Linked DNA regions of Homo sapiens. The protein of the gene in region 2 purifies or fractionates together with the protein of the main gene of each other region. This does not show direct contact. Each region holds a gene or a part of one and is shown on either strand. Other genes may lie near its edges.

Evidence for each region.
Region 1: the proteins of ATF7IP2 (region 2) and ARL14EP purify together in Homo sapiens (affinity purification with mass spectrometry; 2 studies listed by BioGRID and IntAct, with this or other methods). This does not show direct contact.

The regions. Positions count from the first base shown.
Region 1 is NC_000011.10:30,325,932-30,333,292, reverse strand, and holds part of ARL14EP (ARL14 effector protein), read right to left. Parts: intron 6,288-7,361; exon of another isoform or gene 6,235-6,287; intron 2,408-6,234; 5' UTR 2,345-2,407; coding exon 1,919-2,344; intron 428-1,918; coding exon 300-427; intron 1-299.
Region 2 is NC_000016.10:10,389,018-10,396,378, reverse strand, and holds part of ATF7IP2 (activating transcription factor 7-interacting protein 2), read right to left. Parts: intron 1-7,361. UniProt on the Homo sapiens protein: Recruiter that couples transcriptional factors to general transcription apparatus and thereby modulates transcription regulation and chromatin formation. Can both act as an activator or a repressor depending on the context.

The DNA.
Region 1 (7,361 bases), on a different chromosome or scaffold from region 2:
ATATATATAATAACAATGCTTTTCAAATAAGTGAATTACTTTAATTGTAATTATTTTAACTCTCATGCCAAAATTATTTCTTCAGTTCACTGCTACCTTCTTAGAAACAAATTTTTGTAGTTGAAAGGGATACCTTAATTTTATATGAATAAAAACAAAGGCCTTCATAGGTTTTTACTAATTCTACATTATCCAATTTAAAATATGAACCCAGAAAATTCAAAATTTAAGAGAAAAATAGGGGAACAATGCAGATGTGAAGCAGCAAGTTAACATGTCTTCAGTAACACTTAGCCTACCTGTCTGAACCAGCGGTTGCATTTTTTGTAAGCCTTCTTTTTTCTCTTTTACCAGTTTCTGGAGCAAATTCAGTTTGCCTTCCTGGATTCGTAAATTGTAATGACCTCAAAGCTTTAGCAGTTCTTCCCTGAAGAAAGGTAAACAAATTATCAACTCAAATCTTGACAACAGACAACAGATTAACATTTTATTTAATGTTAAACCAGACGATTCCCTAACATGGAAGACAGTCTGGAACACACAAAAAAGAAAACAAGGTTTTAGAGCCTAAGTGCAAGAAAATTTACATGGCCCTAGACCATATTCAAAGCATATTGGTTAATGTATTAGTAACATTTCCATTATTTTATTTTAGTCTCTGGTATATTAGGAGCAGAGGAGGAAGGCATTGTGAAAACTGCAATGGCTGCTGCCAACACAGGAGAGAAGGCACAAAAACTGCTATATAATCCAGTGGCACATAACTGATTTCCTAACAATCCTGGGTCCTTATTATTGTATTTTATATATTTTTAAGAGCAGAGAATATGATTTCAAGTTCTAGAATAGTATTATAATCTTTTTGAAAAGTTTTGGTGAAACAAAATTTCGGTGTTTAAGGGTTTATGTTTGTTATTTGGGGAGGAAAGAGCTGCAGCTGATATATTCTACAAGAACATTGGATAGATAAGGTGAAGACATCTACAATGACACTATCAGCAAGTATCTAGTATGAACTACAGATAAACTGGGCCCTCAAGATGTTCCTCTGAGAAGACAACAACAGGAAAATAGTATAATTTCAAATTTCAACTATCTTTTAACTTGGTTTAATAAAAAGGAGAAAACTGAGAAAAATATTCCAGCAGTAAGAATTATGAAATAATTACAAGTAAAAATTCTGAGATGTGCTTCTTTGATATACTTGTCCTACACAAAAGATAGCTTTATGAAAACTTAAGTTGTTCTGATATGGTTAAATATGCATGTAGGCATGTCAATAGGAATAGAGGTAAAATATTTAATACTTTACAATGTAAAAATGTATTATTTTTTTTTTACCTCAAGGAGTCCTAAAATTAGCCTTGACCATATCAAGTAGGAATTCAGAACTAGAAGCAAAGAAAATTCACAAGCATTTAAAAAACTCAAGAACGAGACAGTGTCAAAGGAGAAAAAAAGAGTGAAATAAAAAACAATTACTGTAAGTCACCTCTCTAATGTTCCTTTTAAAGCAGTGATTTCCAAGTCCTTCATATAAAGGCGAAGTCATCCTGCTGCAAAGACCCTTGGTGGTTGCCATGTCCCGTGTAGTTACTTTGGTATCAGAAAAGAAACTAAATCCTGGCTTGGCCAGAATATTCTAAAACCCACTCCTAAAGTCTTCGCACTAAAAGTTGTAGCTTGGAGTCTTAGGCATATTTTATTATTACTTTCCCAGGCCTACTTTCTTTATCCCCCAATCTTGACCTTCAGTATATGTGAATAATATTTAGAAACATCATCCACTTTCACCCCTCCTTTTAATTCACTGTATGCTAACAAATTTAGTAATAATGTAAATATGATTTTCTTATAGTTAAGCAAAATCCTACATGGTAGAATTCACAATGTAGAAAAAAATGACTATTACACATACATCTGACTCAGGTTTCCTTTTCTGGCGGTCTTCAGTATCAACATCCACACTTCCATTGATTATCTGTGTGCATTTTGGACAAAGCTTCCAACCAGGTACAAGCTGTCTTCCAAATTTAGCACTCAGAAAAGTGGCATCATCTAAGTCAATTACATGCAAATTTTTTTTGGCTAATTTCTTGTGTATGTTAAATGGGTCACAACATGACTTCTGTAAATCCTCAAATCTGTCAATGTAAATTTTTACATGATGAAAGCAAATTGTATTGTTCCCAGAAAGTGTCATTCCAGTTCTAAGTTGAAGTAAAAGCATATCATTTGATGACAATTCTTGCAAAGTCTTAAAACCTGTGTGACGAGTATAGTAGGTTTTATGGCACTCATTTGTAGTACGAAGCTGGACTCCAACTGAACATGGATCCATCATTCTTGATTCTAGCAAATTTTCCGTTTTATTTTGTCTGGAGGTTTAGGTCATGGGCTGATCACCCTAGAGAAAATATTAAAGAGAATCAAATTTGTGCTGCAAGTTTATCTAGGAAACTGAAAAAGCATTTGATAAAATTCAACACCTATCTAAAAGAAAATAAGGAATAAAAAAGGTATTTATCGAAGTCTTATAATAGACATTTAATAATCAAACAGAAGCGTTCCCTGTAAAGTCAGAACTTCACGAAAACATCTGCAATTACAGATTATATTTAAGACCACATAAGAATTAAAAAGGAGGAAATAAGAAATATTATCCTAAGATACATGAGAAATACAAGAGGTTTAACAAACTATTAGAACTAATAAGAGAATTCACCAGGGATGCTAGAAACCAAAAAACACTGTATCTTACAAAATATGTGACTCTTACAAAAGACATACAACAAGACCTTCATGGAGAAAATTATCAAACTGCAAGACAAAAACGGTACCCTAAATAAATGCAGCTATATATCATGGAGTGGCTCATTATAAAAAATATGTCAATTATCTGGGAATACATCTGTAAATTCAGTTCTGTTACAATCAAAGTTCCATCAGATATTCTACTGCCACCCCCTTGGAATTTAGCAAGCTGGTCTATATGAAAGAGCAAAGGTCTAAGAAAGCCAAGGTAATCCTGAAGGAAAATACAGTAACATATTGATTTACTTTAAACCTATTCTAATTAAAACTATGGTATTGGTATAGTATAAACAAACAGATCCATGAGTAGATGAGGGCTCAGTATATGACATGTGGTACTATTAATCGATGGGTATCACACACTAATGAAGAAGGGACTTTAACCATATGGAAAAACAATTAGATCTCTTCTGCACAAACAAAAATCAATAACAAGTGGATTAAAGATTTAAACATGAAAAGAAAAACTAAACATGTTTATGAGAAAATAAAGAAGGTTTTCTGACATGGAAGTATGGAAGAATTTTTCAAACAAGCAAGCAGATACCAAAAAAATAAATAAATAAAAAGATGGATATATTTGATTATATGTAAAATTTACACATTTCTGTATAACTAAAGGAGAAAAAAAAAGACACTTGAAAGGTGTTAGGATTATTATCATAAATATTCGAGTAACTCCTCACTTCCAAAAATCAATTAGAAAATGACAGAGTCCACTGGAAAACTAAACAAATATAGTCAGGCAATTCACAGAGAAAGAGAACAAAAGCCAATACATGCATACAAACTGTTTCCCCCATAGTTCCTAGGAAAATGCAAATTAAATATCATTTATTAAACATTTGCTTGAAATCAATTTAAAAATCTGATATCTGGTTAAGATGTGTCCAACTCTCACATGCTCCTTATAATAACTTTGGTAGGAATGTAAATTGCTGCAACTGCTTTAGAACATTTTCTGCAATTTCTTGTAAAACTGAGGAAGCATACACCTTGGGACTCAGCTCTTTTCAGTTCTGGGTGTCAGATGGAGAAAAATATCTCCAATAAGAGCACAAGTTATATACGAAAACTTTCAGCATTCACTGCCTTTGGCAGTGAAAGATGACAAATAACCTAATTGTAAAGGATGTGAAATCGTTACTCATACAAGGGACTCCCACATAACAGTTAAAATGAATAAACTACATGAATTACGTGAATCAACATGAATAAATCTCAAAGACAATCTTAAGTGAAAAAAGTTGTAAAGGTTATATAGTATCATCATTAAAGGTAAAATTTAAAAAGATAAGATAGTACATAAGATTTACAGATGAAACATGAATATATACTAAAATATACATAAGAGTAACATATATCACATTTGTGGATACTTCTGAGGGGAAAAAACATTATTTTCCCCAAAAAGATTTACAGAAAATAAGGTTTGGTGACATGTACATAAGTGCTTCACTACTGTCCATACTTTCTATTTGAAATTTTTCATAAATAATTTTCAAAGCAAATTAAAAAAAAAAGTTGGATTCTCAAGAAAATATGCAACCAATGCAACTCATTAGGAAAAAATCTGCTGTTGAGAAAAAATGTGAACCACTGAAATCTGAGTGGTAGGGAGGGACTGTGAAGTCTAGGATTCAGCAATTTTACAAGTGTTTTTAAGCTTTGCAAAATTAAAAAAAAAACAAAAACTGGAGAGAAATCTTAAACACATTTTGATATGGTTTCTGCAGAGAAAAACAATAATCAGCAAAATCATATAAAAAGAAGACTCTGGCCTCAGGTAACAAAAAATGGCGAATAAATGTCTGTGTTTTAGGTCAAAATACTGTATTTACAAAGTTAAAAAATAAAATACACTTTAAAGTGTTAAAATATGTTACTGAACATTTTAACTGAAAAAAGTTTTAAAGCTGGTAAAAACAGAGTATATTTATATTCATTTACTGTGTTTTAGTCAGTTTTTAAAATGAACTAATACAGGTCCCAATCAAATCAGATAAAATGGCTTCTATCACAGTAATAATTAGAAAAGTTTCTTCTAGCCAGGCATTGTGGCTCCTGCCTGTAATCCCAGCACTTTGGGAGGCCAATGTGGGTTGATCACTTGATGCCAGGAGTTCTAGACTAGACTGGCTAACATAGTGAAATCTCGTGTCTACTAAAAATACAAAAATATTAGTCAGGTGTGGTAGTGCAGCTATATGGGAGGTTGAGGCATGAGAATCGCTTGAACCCAGGAGGCGGAAGTTGCGGTGAGCCGAGATCGTGTCACTGGACTCCAGCCCGGGCGACAAAGCGAGACTCTCATCTCAAAAAATAAAAAAATAAAAAAAATTTTTTTTTTCTTCAAACAGATAATTGGATTAAGATAAATTAAGGAGGAGAAAAAGGAAATCAGAGGTAAAGTTACAAGGCAACGAACTATGTGGCAATGTATATTAGCAAATAAGGGACACAATCTGGCTTTGACCTTTCTTATTTTTTATATATATTTTTTGAGACGGAGTCTCGCTCTGTCGCCCAGGCTAGAGTGCAGTGGCGAGATCTTGGCTCACTGCAAGCTCCACCTACCGGGTTAACGCCATTCTCCTGCCTCAGCCTCCAGAGTAGCTGGGACTACAGGTGCCCGCCACCACGCCTGGCTAAATTTTGCTTTTTTTTTTTTTTTTTGTATTTTTAGTAGAGATGGCGTTTCACCATGTTAGCCAGGATGGTCTCGATCTCCTGACCTCGTGATCCGCCTGCCTCAGCCTCCCAAAGTGCTGGGATTACAGGCATGAGCCACCGTGCCTGGCCTGACCTTTCTTAATACAAGGGAAACTAGGACAACTATCCCTCATCACTGTACAGAAAATAATGCTTAGTATTTTGTTAATGCCAGAGATTCTTTTTATTTGGAGGTAATCATCACCAGTTTTTAGCCACAGATCTATAATGGAACTTTTTTTGCCATAAAGCTATTTCCTAATATTCAAAACTTGGGCTACCATGGTCATATTTGATAGGAAAAGCATCTTGGATTTAGGAAACTAATTACTTTAGAAACCTTATCTGTCCATAGTAATAATACATTTTTACCCTTTAGGGTAATTTCATTTACTCTATTAATTTTAATTTTAGGTAAAAAATTCTTTTCCTTAGTTATTGGGGAGTCTCTGTTCCATTAGTTTCCTTTATTCATGGCTAAATTACTACAAAATTCAACAGAGTTCATCATGATTAAAGGAAACTAATGGAATAGACTCTGTAACTTGTGCCAGTGAAGTTGAATACCTATTTCTGAAATTCCTGGCCTCAAGTGATCTTCTCACCTCAGCCTTCTGAGTAGGTGGGTCCTGTAAGTTGTTTACAGGAAGTTCAGTTTTTCTTAGTAACAGGCAGCACATTGAGCTAGCACCAAAGATCTCTACTTACTGGATGCAGAAAATGGGGTCACCAGACTTGGCAAATAAAAAACGCAGGATGCCCTGTTAGATTTGAATTTCAGACAACGAATTACTTCTTTACAGGATCAGCTCATTTTAAAATTAAAATATCCTATCTGATAGAAGACATTGCCAACTGTGATAAAAACTAAATTTTACACAGATTAAAATTCAGCGGCAAACTAATCCCACTCACTTGAGTAAAACTGCACACACCTGAGTAAAACTGCACACACCTGAGTCAAGGTAGTTTTAAAGTCTTCCATAGGTTAGCTTTCTGATCTACGATTAGGCAGTTTGTTCACATACTGTCAAAGAGTCCAAGTCCAGCTAGCTCAAGGAACACCAAATTTCAGACACTGATCCTAAGTGGTCACTGTTTGCATTCTAAAAATCACACCCTCTGGTTGTTCCTCCTCTGTTATATTCCTCAATGTTCTCATTTCCAGCTCTTTCTGACTTCCTCCTATAAGCTAAAGTTCTGCATTTGGGCCTGTTTCCTAGCAACTGTTTTTGCTCATTTTGGTCTGTGTTCTGGCAATGTGGCCTACAGTTTATATTTTGTTTTCTTCAAATGACAGTCCAGCAAGTTCATATTGTTCCTTTCACCTACAGTACAGTGCTATGTTCTTCCATAACGATGATTTATCTGGCCCCTTCCTTAATATAGTTGGAAATGCATTACTGTTTACTCTCCCTGAATCAGCACTGGCATCAGCTGAGACCTCAGTAGAAATACAGAATCTCAGTATCAGCTCCAGACCCAATGAGTCAGGATCTGCATTTCAAAAAGATACCCAAGTGATTTGTAAGCACATTACAGTTTGCTATGTACTGCTTCAGATAATTCAATTAAAAAATTTAAATTTAAAATGTTTTGATATCTTCTATATTTTATAGAAGATAGCAAAAAAGAGTAAGAAAAACACAGATATGTATTTGCCTTACAGGAAGTCTAACTCTAGGGAAGATTATTGAGGGAGAGGAGATTTAAATTCGATACACTAAGGACAGAGAAAAACATCTGCTTCAATAGAAAACTGCACTGTTGAGAGCACAGCCTTTCAGGTTTTCACATTCTGATTACATGGGAAGTCTGATTCTTTCAGCATCTTG
Region 2 (7,361 bases):
AACTTAAAAACTTCTGTACAGGAAGAGAACAATCAACAGAATGAAGAGCCAATGTATGAAATGGGAGAAAATATTTGCAAACCATACATCTGATCAGGGGTTAATAACCAAAATATATGAGTCCTCTGGCTAGATGAACATGGGATTATCTATTTACTTATTTAATTTCTCTCAACATTCTGCAGTTTTCAGAGTATATGTTTTGTACTACTTTTTGATGCTATTATATATGCTTTCCTCAATCTCAGTTTTGGATTCCTCTTTGCAAGTATATGGAAATAAAACAGATTTATGTACACTGATCTTCCATCCTTCAACTTTGTTGAACTGGCTTTTATCTTTAATGGTTTGTGAATCTCTTAGAATTTTCTACATATTAAATCATGTTATCCGTGTATATTTTACTTCTCCCTTTCCAATTTCGATGCTTTTATTATTTGAAAAAAAAAAATGGGCTTCATTTTCCTGACTAGATCCTCCAGTACAATGTTGAATAGAAATGCCAGGAGGGGTCCATCTTGTTCCTGAATTAGCAGGAAAACCTCCAATCCTCCACTATGATGTTAACCGTGGGTTTTTTTACAGATGCTTTTTAACAAGTTAAGGAAGTTCCAAACTTTCCCTATTGTTTAATGTTTTTATCATGAAGGGACACTGGATCTTATCAATGCTTTTCACTATCTCTTAAAAAGATCATGTAGCTTTGTTCTCTTTGATATGGCACTTAACATTAAAGATTCTTGCATGAGAAATTTATTTTGCATTCCTGAAATAAATCTCACTTGGTCATGGTGTATAATCCTTTTATGTTAATTTCAAATTACTAGTATTTGGTTGAGGATTTTCACATCTCTATACATTAAAAAAACATCGTTCTGCAGTTTTCTTTTCCTATAGTATTGGGGTCTGCTTTTGGTATCCAAATAATACTAGCCTTACAGAATTATTTCAGAAATGTTCTGTCCTCTTCTATTTCTTGAAAGAATTGAAGAACTGTACCTTTAAATGTTTGGTAGAATTTACTAATAAAACCATCTGATTTGGGGCTTTTCATTTTGTCCTAATTCCACTGCTTTGTTTATGTTTGTTCAGATTTTCCTCTTCTTCAGTCAGTTCTGGCAGTTTTGTGTCTTTTTAGGAATTTGTCTGTTTCATCTATTAAATGGAGTACCATACAATTGGAATTATTCTATAGTATTCCCTTATAATTTTTTTTTTTAACTACTGGAAGGTCAGAAGTAATGTCCCCTCATTCATTCCTGATTTTAGTAATTTGAGTCTTCTCTCCCTTTTTTGTGCTCAGTTTAGCTGAATGTTTAATTTTCTTGATCGTTTAAGAAAATGATTTATGGTTTCCTTTTCTATTTTTGTCTATTCTATTAATTTCCACACTAATTTTTTCCTACATTCTGCTGACTTCAGGCTCAGTTTGTTCTTCTAGTTCCAGTTTTTCTTAAAAGGTCTAGGTTACTGATTTGAGGTCTTTTTTAATATAGCATTTATCACTATAAATTTTCTAAGAATTGCTGTAATTGTACCCTCCAAAACCTTTGATATGTTTGTCTTCATTTTCATTCACCTCAAAGTATTTTCTAATTAACCTCATGATTTCTTTGACCCATTATTTAGGAGTGTTAATTTCAACATATTTGTAAATTTCTCAAGTTTCTTTTTAGTACTGATTTCTGATTTTATTCACTGGTCAGATAATGTTCTTTCCCATAATTTCAGTCCTTTTAAGTGTGTTGGTTTGCTTCATGGCCTAGTGTGACTATATTGATGGATGTTCTACATACACTCCAAAAGTCTATTCTGCTGTTGTTGGGTGGACTGTTCAAAGATATCTCTTAAGTCTAGTTGGTTTAGTGTTGCTCAAGTCGTCTCTTGTCTCACTGATTTCCTCAGTTTTCTATCCATTATGACAGTGTTGTATTGAATTCTCCAATTATTACTGAACTGTGCATTTCTTCCTTCAATTCTGTCAATAGTTGCTTCATACATTTTGCTGCTCTCTTAGTAGGTGCATATATGTTTATGATTTGTATGCCTGAGGCACCAACTCTTCTGTCATTATAGAATGTCCCTATGTATCTCCAGCAATACTGTTTCAGTATATTTTGTCTGAAATCAGTATAGGCACGATAGCTTTACTATGGTTGCTATTTGCATGTTGTATCTTCATCTATCCTTTTACTTTCAGCCTATTTGCATCTTTGAATCCAAAGTCTGTCTCCTGTAAACAGCCTATAGGCCAAGGCTGTTTTTCCCTTCAGTATGAAAATCTCTGCCATTTCATGGGATTGTTTAATCCTTTCACACCTGACATTACTTGGTTGTTTTTGTTTGTTTAGAGATAGGTCTCTCTATCATGCACAGTGCTGAGATCAGAGCTCACTGCAGCCTTGAACTCCTGGGCTCAAGTGATCTTCCCACATCAGCCTACCAAGCAGCTGGGACTACACGTATGTGCCATCACACTCAGCTAATTTTAAAATTTTTTTGTAGAGACAAGGTCTTACTATGGTGCCCAAGCTCATCTCAAACTCCTGGCCTCAAATGATCCTCGGCCTACCAAGGTGCTAGGATTCCAGACATGAGCCACTGTACCTGGCCTTCATATTACTATTGACATACAGATGCTGTGTGACTTGCAGTAGTATTACATCCCAAAAAACCTATCAGAAATTGAAAATATCCTAGGTCAAAGATGCAGTTAATACAGGTACAACTAACCTACCGAGCATCATAGCAAAACCTAAGCCTACCTTAAACATGTTCAGAACACTCATATTAGCCTACAATTGAGCAAAATAATTTAACCCAAAGTTGATTTTATACTGAAGTCTTGAATTTCTCATGGCTTTATATTCTACCGAATGCCTATCACTTTCTGTAGCATCATAAACTAAAAATCATGTCAAATCACAATTCAGGGTCCACCTGTAGCTTGATTTATGTCTGCCTTTCACTTTTTGGCTTATGTCTCATGCCTTTTGTTCTATTCCTTTACTGCCATAGGATTTTTCCAATGGTGTCTTTTTTTTTTTTTTTTTTTTTTTTTTTGAGACAGAGTCTCACTCTGTCACCCAGCCTGGAGTGCACTGGCATTGAGGCAATCTCAGCTCACTGCAACCTCCGCCTCCCAGGTTCAAGCAATTCTCCTGCCTCAGCCTCCCAAGTAGCTGGGATTACAGGTGCCCACCACCATGCCCAGCTAATGCTTGTATTTTTAGTAGAGAGGGGGTTTCACCATGTTGGCCAGGCTGGTCTCAAACTTCTGACCTCAAGTGATCCGTCCACCTTAGCCTCCCAAAGTGCTGGAATTACAGGTGTGAGCCATCGCACCTGGCCTAATGGTTTCATTTTTAAAACTTCATTTTTCTTTTCTTTTGGAGACATGGATTCACGTTGTTGCTCAGGCTAAAGTACAGTGGGCATGAACACAGCTTACTGCAGCCTCAACCTCCGGGACTCAAACAAGACTCTAACCTGACCCTTCAAGTAGCAGGGACATCAGGGGCGCCCATCACACCCAGCTAATTTTTTTTTTTTTTTAAAGACAGAGTCTCACTATGTTGCCCAGGCTGGTCTTCAACTCTTGGGCTCAAGAAATCCTCCTGCATTGGCCTCCCAAAGTGCTGACATTAGACAATTTATGGGCCTGTGCCTGGCCTATAAATGGCTAACATTATGTTTATAATTTTTATATCAATGTTAATGAGAGATGGGTCTATTTTATTGGGTGTTGATATCAAAGGTTTGCTGACCTCATACAAACTACAAAGTCTTTCTAGTCTCTGAACAATTTCTGTGTGAATGGTGTTATTTTTCCTTAAATATTAGAATAATTAACCACTAATGCCATTTGGGCCTGGGGTTAACTTAGTGGTAAAGGTTTTCCATTAAAATTGAGGTAGAACCAGCTGGGAGCAGTGGCTCACACCTGTAATCCTAGCACTCTGGGAGGCCAAGGCTCAAACAGCCCAGGAGTTCAAAACCATCTTGGAGATGTCATCTCCAGTTTAAAAAAAAAAAAAAAAGGCCAGGCGCAGTGGCTCATGACTATAATCCCGGCACTTTAGGAGGCCAAGGCATGTGGATCACCTGAGGTCAGTAGTTCAAGACCAGCCTGACCAACATGGCGAAACCCCATTTCTACTAAGTACAAAAATTAGCTGGGCATGGTGGCGGGTGCTACTTGGGAGGCTGAGGCAAGAGAATCACTTGAACCTGGGGGGTGGGGGTTGCAGTGAGCTGAGATCTTGCCCGTTCACTCCAGCCTGGGGAAAAGAGTGAAAATCCGTCAAAAAAAAAAAAAAAAAGATAATACAACCATTCATACTTTTTATATCTTTTGGTGTCAATTTTACCTATTTTTCCATTTCAACACAATTTAAAATTTGTCAACACAAAGTTCTTATAGTATTCTCTAATTGTATGTGTAATACCTGTAGTGCTGTCCCTCCTTTTCTTTTTTTTTTTTTAAACAGAATCTCACTCTGTCACCCAGGCTGAAAGGCAGTGGCACGATCTCAGCTCACTGCAACCTCCACCTCCCGGGTTTAAGCAATTCTCCTGCTTCAGCCCTCCAGCAGCTGGGACTACAGGCGTGCACCACCATGCCCAGCTAATTTTTGTATTTTAGTAGAGATAGTGTTTCACCATGTTGGCTAGGCTGGACTTGAACTCCTGACCTCAGGTAATCCACCTGACCTGGCCTCCTAAAGTGCTGGGATTACAGGCATGAGCCACTGCACCCGGCCTCATTCTTGATATTAGTGATGTGCTTTTCTCTTTTTCTTGATCATTTTTATTAAACATGTACCAAGATTGTCAAAGTCAACAAAAATACAAAAAAGACAAAAAGAGGCTGTCAAAGTACTTTAAGTTTGCTAGCTTCCTATTATACAGTGTTCCATTTCATAATTTCCTGCCATATTCCTTTTCTTTTTTTATTTGACACAGAGTTTCACTCTTGTTGCCCAGGCTGGAGTGCAATGCAAGATCTCCGCTCACCGCAACCTCTGCCTCCTGGGTTCAAGTGATTCTCCCATCTCAGCCTCCTGAGTAGCTGGGAGCCACAGCGCCTGGTCTTTTTAAAATTTTTATTGCCCAGGCTGGTCTTGAACTTCTGGGCTCCAGCAATCCACCCACCTCAGCCTCCCAAAGTACTGGGATTACAGGTGTGAGCCCCCACGCCCAGCACATTTTTTTTTTTTTTTGAGACAGGGTCTCTCTCTGTGGCCCAGGCTGGAATGCAATGGCGCGATCATAGCTCACTGTAACCTTGAACTCTTGGGCTCAGCAATTCTCCCATCTCATTCTCCAGAGTAGCTAGGACTACTGGCGCATGCTACTGCACCCAGCTAATTGTTTTTCATAGCGATGGGGTCTCATTATGCTGCCCAGGCTGGCTTCAAATTCCTAGGCTTAAGTAATCCTCCAGTCTTGGCCTCCTAAACCATTGGGATTACAAATGTGAGCTACAATGCCCTACCCTCCTTCTGCTTTCTTTGCGTTTGCTTTGCTGTTCTTGTTGCAGCTTCAGGTAAAAACTCAGATATTTTTTCAGTCTCTCTTTTTCCTTTTCATTTTTAGAGTCACACTTTGTCACCCAGCTGGAGTGCAGTGGCATGAACACAGCTCACTGCAACCTCAAAATCCTAGGCTCAAGTAATCCTACTGCCTCAGCCTCCCAAGGAGGTAGGACTACAAGTGTGTCCCTCCATGGCTGGCTAATTTTACAAAACATTGTTTTGTAGAGACAGGGTCCTGTGTAATGTTACCCAGGTGGGTCTCAAACTCCTGACCTCAAGTTATCCTCTACCTTGGCCTCACAAAGTGGTGGGATTACAGGCATGAGTCAGCATGCCCAGCCTATTACCTTTTTTTCTAATTTCTCACTTAAAGCTGTAAATTTTCCTCTAAGCCCTACTTTAGTTGAGCCCACAAGTTTTGAAAAACTCTACCTTATAATTTGATATTTATCCAATATTCTCTAAGATGCATTGTAATTTTTTAACCTGTAGATTATTCACAAGCATGTTACTTTCCAAGCAATAACATATTTCCTGTATCTTTGTGGTTAAAAGTTAGCTTAATCTTTTTTCCTGTTATAGTTCGAAGTTATGGGTGCATGCTGATTTAGTTGGGTTTTTTCCTGCTTCATTGGGTTTCTCCATTATAAAACATCTCTGTTCTCCAGTGATGTTCTCCAAGGTAGTATCTTAATACATAATAAACACTTTAATAAGAACAATTCTCATTAAATTAAAAAAAACTACTGAACTGAATTTTTACTGTTACTCTTTTTAAAAAGTAAAAATTTAGAAAAAACCCATTTAACTAATCTTGTTCAAAGTCAGGTACTTCAGCCAATATTTGAACGGAGGGTCTTAAGACTCGAAGAAGTCTATCACAAACACAAAACAGTTATTATGAAGCGACAGGGCCCTTTAAGAGTTATATAGTGGTTAACAAAATAACAAAACTCAGGCCAGGTGGCAGTTAATCTCATAATGACCATGAAGTAATGCCAAGTGTGGTTCATAGACCAGCAGCATCCGCATCACCTGAATGCTAATAGAATTCTGACATTACTTTTTTCAAGTTTTATCAATGTAATAGTATAAAATGCTCATTATGAAATAAAGCAGTTGCTTGCCAGCACTCCCGAATATCTAATGGCAATCACTTTAATTTTAACAACTTGTTTTTAAAATCTCAGTATTTTAAAATATTTTCATACTGTTTCTTGAGTTACAAATTTTAGCCATGTCGATTTCCTGTAATTGCAGATGAAGATTTAGCTCACATATGTATTTTTTTTGGAGGTGGGTTGGAAACATTTTAATTGGATGGTAGGGGATGGTAACACTGGACGGGGAGCACTCACAGTTCCAAGAGTTTCCCTCCAAATTATAAAGACGTTCTTGTAATTAGCTAGATTTCCTATAGCCAGGTCTTATGCCCAAGGGAAGGAGGGGAGGATGTGAAAAGCACTGTGGTCTGCCCTCCTGTCATTCGTAGATCCAGTTCTGTAGTTCACACGTCTCTTACAGCTCATCGTATTTTCAGTTAAATCAATATTTAAGTTGTTATAAATATTCTCTATATAGCCAGATAGACTACCATGACTACACTATCTTTCTTTCACAGTAGTTTGTCTTTTCCTGGAGATATCAACTGAACCTTCTTATAAACCTAACCTTCACTTTCCAAATTGACCAGAACTGTCATATTATCAACCTTCCCTCCTAGTCTATGCTCTTTCAAGATCAAGCTTAAAGATCACCTCCTCAAAAAAACAGCCCCGAGAGAACTACTACTTCTTTATCTAAATTTCCCACTATAATTTTTTT